Linked DNA regions of Homo sapiens. The protein of the gene in region 1 purifies or fractionates together with the protein of each later gene. This does not show direct contact. Each region holds a gene or a part of one and is shown in the gene's direction. Other genes may lie near its edges. The genes, in order: OR1A2 and EMC8.

Region 1 (3,233 bases):
CTTAGGTTTTAAGTGCAGAGTGTGGGGTTTGGTCAGACATGTTAGCAGGATGACTGAATATGGAAATATGGGAAAAAGAAATCGAGACCACAGATACAGACATGACAGTTTACTAAAGAATAGTTGAATCCACTGTGGACTTGGATTACTACAAAAAGAAATAAGGAAGACAAGGAAGAGAAGACTGCTATGGATTGAGTTTGCCCTCACCAAAACTCATGTTGAAATGTGATCCCCAGTGTGGGAGGTGTTGGGAGGTAAAGCCTAGTGGGAAGCGTTTGAGTCAAGGGGGTGGATCCCTCATGAGTGGTCTGGTGCTGTTCTCATGGTAGTAAGTGTGTTCTCATTCTCTCAAGACTGGATTAATCTTAAGGGAATGTTCCTACAGGAGTGGGTTGTGATAAAACCAGTATACTTCTCGGGTTTTCTCTCTTCCCCTGTATCCACTTCCCTGTTGACCTTCTCTGACAGGTTATGATGCAGCAAGAAAGCCCTTGCCAGAAGCCAGGGCCACGCTCTTGAATGTCCCAGCCTACAGATCCATGAGACAATTCAACCTCTTTTCTTATAAATTCCCCAGTCTCAAGTATTCTGTTATAGCAACACAAAATGAACCAAGACAAAGGCCAGTGGAAAAAGCACTGTGATTATGTATAGTTATGGGCTTTGAAAAGAGAGAAAAGCTGTCAAAAAGATAGGGAATATCTTTGAAAATCGAACACCTGTGGAGTAAGTTCACTGAGCTTGTTTTTCTAGGACCTAATGCCAGTTGTCTTTCTGTTTTAGAATCTGATGGCAGTGTAGACACCTCTGACTTCCTGGGCTCTGGGCTCACCCCGAGACTGGTTGGAGGAACAACTTTAAATTGTTCACTGCATTCCTACTATGATACATCCTTTGCACTGGAGGATTTTTTGTTTGTTTTTTTCACAAGGACTCCAAGAGGCTATCCTTTTCTTACCATGTGTAATAAAATTATTGTGTGAGTCTGGCTTTCCTATTCAATTATAAGGTCCTTGAGAACAGATGCTATGTCTTGTGTAACAAATAAGTGGATGAATAACTGTATTTTCACATATTTATTGTTTCTCTACAAAGTAAAAAAAAATCTAAGACATGAAACATGAAATTAGGTTTTTGTTATGTGATTAAATTATAGATATTAAGGTGGTGGTGCTACATTTGGAAGGACAACCATCTTTACTTCACAGATCGCTAACTTCTTTGACATGAGTGTCCAGGAGGTCAATGAGAGTTCGTCCCATTGACCAACAGAGATTTTACCCAAAAGTGCTGGCTATATTTATGATTGTAAAAACCAGGTATAGCCATGGCTAATGAAAAGTGGTGGATAAGTTTGACAGCAGGTGAATTTGTAAAATAATTAAAAACGTTTAAGTGGTAGATAAGGCAGACTATAACACACACTAACTGCGCTAATAATTCTGGGTTCCTCTCCCCTTTCATGCTGAAGAAGCCATGAAGAAAGAAAATCAATCCTTTAACCTGGATTTTATTCTCCTGGGAGTTACTAGTCAGCAAGAACAGAATAATGTCTTCTTTGTGATTTTTTTGTGCATTTACCCCATCACACTGACTGGAAATCTGCTCATCATCTTGGCCATCTGTGCTGACATTCGCCTTCACAACCCCATGTATTTTCTCCTTGCCAACCTCTCCTTGGTTGACATCATCTTCTCATCCGTAACCATCCCTAAGGTGCTGGCCAACCATCTCTTGGGGAGCAAGTTCATCTCCTTTGGGGGATGCCTAATGCAGATGTATTTCATGATAGCCTTGGCCAAGGCAGACAGCTATACCTTGGCTGCAATGGCATACGATCGAGCTGTGGCCATCAGCTGCCCACTTCATTACACAACAATTATGAGTCCACGGTCTTGTATCCTGCTTATTGCTGGGTCTTGGGTGATTGGAAACACCAGTGCTCTCCCCCACACTCTGCTCACAGCTAGTTTGTCCTTCTGTGGCAACCAGGAAGTAGCCAATTTCTACTGTGACATTATGCCTTTGCTGAAGTTGTCCTGTTCTGACGTCCACTTTAATGTGAAGATGATGTACCTAGGGGTCGGCGTTTTCTCTTTGCCATTACTATGCATCATTGTCTCCTATGTTCAGGTCTTTTCCACAGTCTTCCAAGTTCCATCTACCAAGAGTCTATTCAAAGCCTTCTGCACCTGTGGCTCCCACCTCACAGTTGTTTTTTTATATTATGGTACAACGATGGGCATGTATTTCCGCCCTCTGACCAGTTACAGCCCCAAAGATGCAGTGATAACTGTGATGTATGTGGCAGTGACCCCAGCATTAAATCCTTTCATCTATAGTCTGAGAAATTGGGATATGAAGGCAGCCCTACAGAAACTCTTCAGCAAGAGAATCTCCTCATAGCCGCTGTGAGATTACACGCTGGATACTGTAATGACCAAGTGGGATACACTTGGAAATCCAGCTCCAATGTCATTGCCCTTCAAGAAGCTCCTTTTGTTCTTTTGAGCCAGAAATTCCTCTACCAGAAATCTTGTAACGGATGTGATATTTTATTGAAATTATCACTTTGGACAAATTCCTGCTCTTTTTTGAGAGAGTGGCAGGCTGGGAATATCAGGTTCATGTCCCAGTTAGCAGAAATTTACTAGCAGAGTAAAGTTGAAAAAGTCTGAGTCTCAGCTTGCATATCTACATGTTAGGAAAATAATATCTGCCGGACTCTCTGACACAGCTTGTGTATATCAAAATGGCTCATGCTTTGAAGGCTGCAAATTACTATTCTAATGTAATCTTTACTGGACTTTTATGTCTAGCCACCCCTACTATACTTGTACTCTGGTGGCAAAAGCTGTGTTAACATATCACTTACTTTTTTAGTATTTTGATCATATAAAATATTGGTGGAAAGCAGGAAAATGTATAAAAATATTAGTTTCTGAAATACAATCTGATAATGAATAAACATAATCAAACTGCATAGTATTCATTCATGTATTATAGAGCTGGTATGTCTGTTAAGGTCAGTTAAGATCCATGCAGGAAACAGAAATCACACTTGGTATATTTATACCAAGAAGATTTGATACAGAGAATTGGCTACATAGGTGTATCCTGAAAGAGACTAAATAGTGAAAAGGCAGATGCTGATGCCACCCACAGATTACCAACGGCATGAAGAAGATACCTCAGGCAGAACTAGGAAAATAAAAGTGTAAATGTGGTGT
Region 2 (3,500 bases), on another chromosome or scaffold:
GCTGGGATTACAGGTGTGAGCCACTGTGCCTGGCCTAAAAGACTTGTTTTGAAAGAGACTGAGATTCCCTTCTGGCTCTGTTTCTATCTGGTTGTGCAAACTTAGAACCTCTCTAAGCTTTGTTTCCTTAACTATGAAGGATAATGATTTAAATAATTTTAAGCATTTCTAAAGCCCCAGTTCTTTATAGTATAAGAGAAGGTAGGTGAAGGTCATCTTCCCTCTGACTCTCTGCAGCACTGTACCAATCCAGTACCTGTAGACAAAGGGTCTTCTCGCTGGGACTGAGGAAGATAGTCATTCCTTATGTTCAAAGTCCTGCCCTTCCTGACCATTTTTTCCTGAGTCCTACCCTTTCTTCTGGGGTGTAGGGTATGAGGATTAAGATTCTGTCATGTCTTGTCCCAGCATGTGGCAGTGAGATCTGTGGTTTTTACGACTTGATATTTAAGGGAGAGTCATTCATCTTTTCCCAATTTTTGTTCCTCTTTCAGATTGATTCATGGTGCAAAGATCATAGCTACGTGATTGCTGGTTATTATCAAGCTAATGAGCGAGTAAAGGATGCCAGGTACGTGGATGCAGAACCCTCTGTGGGCGAGGAAGTGAGCACGTGTTGGGCAGACCCCGTCTCTCGTGTGCTTTTCGGCCAGATACGAAACCTGTGAGACCTACACCCCTTCCCTCTGTGCTTATTTGTAGTATTTGAGGCGAACTGTGGTGTGGATAATTCCAAACAACAGAAATTCCAAACATTTCTATTAACTTTGGAATTCTGTTTTGTGTCTTCTTTATTTTGCATGAAGGGAATTCATACAATGAAAGCGACAGTTGGCTTCCGACTTCTGTCCCTGCTCAGCTCTGCCTTGCTTCCCCTTCCCAGACTAGGGGTGGTGTTGGGCAGAGCACTGGGAAGGAATGTTGCTCTATTTGCCGGTAAATAGACCAGCCTGTAGGTTTGGGGTCAGTACTCTGATGAAAATGTGGTATTTGCTGCCCCCTTTATACTGGCTCCTTCTTTCTTTTCCTTTATCCAGATCCTTCCCCAACTGGGGCTCTCGCTAATAACAAAGCTGAGAATTTTTCTATATGTCTGCGTCATCTTGGTCCCAACAGAAAAACAGATGACACACTCAGGTGGTGATAATCTGAGGAGGGCTTAATAAGCAGGCTGTTGACAAGGCCTGGGCCGTAGATAACGCACAGGGGGTCGTGCTGTAAACAAGGCTGGCGACAACAGCCCAAAGGGTGGGGAGGAAGGAGCTGGGTAAACAAGTCCACCTTGAGAAAAGCAGTGCCCTTGGGCAGGTGGCCACAGCCAGCCTGACGTGGCCTCCCATTAGGGGAGAGGTGGCCCAGAGCAGTCAGTACATGATGTCCCCCTTCCATTTTCCTTTGGCTGAACCGAGCCAGAAGCCAGATGGGCAGCTGGAAAGTCCACGCCGTATATAACGGGCATGCGTCAGGCTGCCCTGACGTGGCTTCCTCATGTTGTCAGATAGAGCCGACCCTCCAGTGTCCAGGGAGATGGGGGTGCAGTGAAGGGCCCTGCCGTTGGGTCCACTTGCTCAGCACAGATGAGAAGGTGAGCTCAAGCACTTTGGAAATAATACAGTAAGCTGGTGACAGCATTGCTATCACTGATGAGGCACCAGTGTTTCTGATGAGAAACATGGTATCCTAAAAGAAACCCAAATTTAGAAACATAATTATCTTACCCTAGGAGGGCTGGGTCCAGGCACAGGATCCTGAGGGAGGCAGATGTCCTAGGAGATGCTGCACTCAAAGTCAGTCCGCTGAAGCCTCTGCCAAGGCGGTTGGGAGTGCGTGGAATCCCCATGCACATTGGCTCTTCTGCTGCTTCCTCTGAGCCCACGAGCAGCACTGGCCTCTCCGCCTTCAGCGCATCTCTTCTGACTCTCACTGGGATGTCCTCTGTTTGATATCGCCTGCCTCCCTTTGTTGATGAATCAGTGCCTCCCCTCTCAGTGCCTTCACTGAGCGAGAGCCTACCCACGGGGCCACATCCATCTTAGTCTTTGTTACATGAAAGACTAGGCGTGGGCTGAGGAAAGCGCAGCCCTCTGGCCCTTGCCCTCACGTGGCTGAGTTGAACATGAAGGACAGTGCAAACACAGGCTGTGGTGCAGGACAGCGGCCCCTGCAGGGGGCTTGGTGGCAGGGGCCGGGAGACTTAGACCTGGTAGGATGATCCCAGAAGTCCAGGGCATGGTGTCCTGTAAACCAGGCCCTCGAGAGTGAGCAGGGCCTTGTCAAGTGCAGACGTGGAGACCAGGAGGTCAGCATTCCTGGTTGGGGGGACAGCAGACACAGGTGAGGACGTGGCAAGGGCTGGGGCCGTGCCCACATGGAGGGAGATGCTAGGAAGTGAGGCTGCACAGGTAGGTTGGGCCACAGCTGAGGGCTCCTCTGTGCTCAGAAGCATTTTGAACTTCACCTTGCAAGCAGTGGGGAGCACCCTTGGCAGGAAGGTGTTCCTGGACCAAGCAGTGTCTGCCGTGGCTGTCCCTGCAGAAGGGAGAGGAGACTGGGCAAGTGGGAATGGCACCAGGTTGTCAGATGAGGGCAGGGGCCTCCCTTTCCTTAATCCCCCACCTGCAAATCCATGCCTGATGTGGTCGCCCCACATGGACCTGCGCAGGCTCTCCTATGCTCCTCTCTGCGCATGCCTCATCTGGCTCACAGCTCTCATGTTCTTACCTCTGTGCTGACCTCGTTACAGCCCAGCCTGGAATTATCCTACTCGGACACAGTTTTCCTGCTCTCCATACCTTCCTTCTAGAATGTCCTCCCTATCCTCACCTAGTCCACGTCCTTCTGCGTCCTCCAGGAGGTTTTGCAGTCCTTCATTAATACTGACTTTTAAATGCATCCGGAGCAGCCATTTGTCAGATGTGTAGAGAGGATAAACCTTAGCTAGGAGTCTGCCACCCTGGAATAGGGAATCCACCTCCCCCTCCCCCGCTGTGCCCAGTTGTTTGAGGAGGACACCTCAGGTAGGTAATGCCGTGCTATCCCTGGGCTCTATCGGGGTCATTTTATTTCATCCTCACAGCAATGCACAAGTGAAGAAACCAGCCGGAGAAGGTGGCTTCTCAGAGGCCACACAGCTTGGGAGCTCAGGAGCTAGGATCATGCCAACTTCTGACTTAAGTATGGTTTTGCTTCTGCCTGGAAAACCTTCCCCTCTCTTCAGCCAGACCTAGCTGAAAATTTGCTCTTCTTATTCTAGAAATATTGCCTCATTCACAGTGTCTTGCAGCATGATTTGGAGCCAAGTAGACCTGGATTCAAATTCTAGGTGACTTACTGATTAACCTCCTTGGGCCTCTGTGGCCCTGTCTGTAAAATGGAGCTGAGCTCATGCCTCAGAGAGTAGTCATGAGGACAGAATGAAATTGCGCAGTGTGTTTGTCCTTGTGCTTGGTTTACAGTAGTGGCTGGTGCTGTTACTAGTGCTGTGATGACTTTTTCTATTA

Evidence for each region.
Region 2: the proteins of OR1A2 (region 1) and EMC8 purify together in Homo sapiens (affinity purification with mass spectrometry; one large-scale study listed by BioGRID and IntAct). This does not show direct contact.

What each region holds. Positions count from the first base shown.
Region 1 is NC_000017.11:3,196,040-3,199,272, forward strand, and holds OR1A2 (olfactory receptor 1A2), read left to right. Parts: upstream 1-1,479; coding exon 1,480-2,409; downstream 2,410-3,233. UniProt on the Homo sapiens protein: Odorant receptor.
Region 2 is NC_000016.10:85,786,045-85,789,544, reverse strand, and holds part of EMC8 (ER membrane protein complex subunit 8), read left to right. Parts: intron 1-494; coding exon 495-571; intron 572-3,076; coding exon of another isoform or gene 3,077-3,174; exon of another isoform or gene 3,175-3,253; coding exon of another isoform or gene 3,254-3,288; exon of another isoform or gene 3,289-3,322; intron 3,323-3,500. UniProt on the Homo sapiens protein: Part of the endoplasmic reticulum membrane protein complex (EMC) that enables the energy-independent insertion into endoplasmic reticulum membranes of newly synthesized membrane proteins.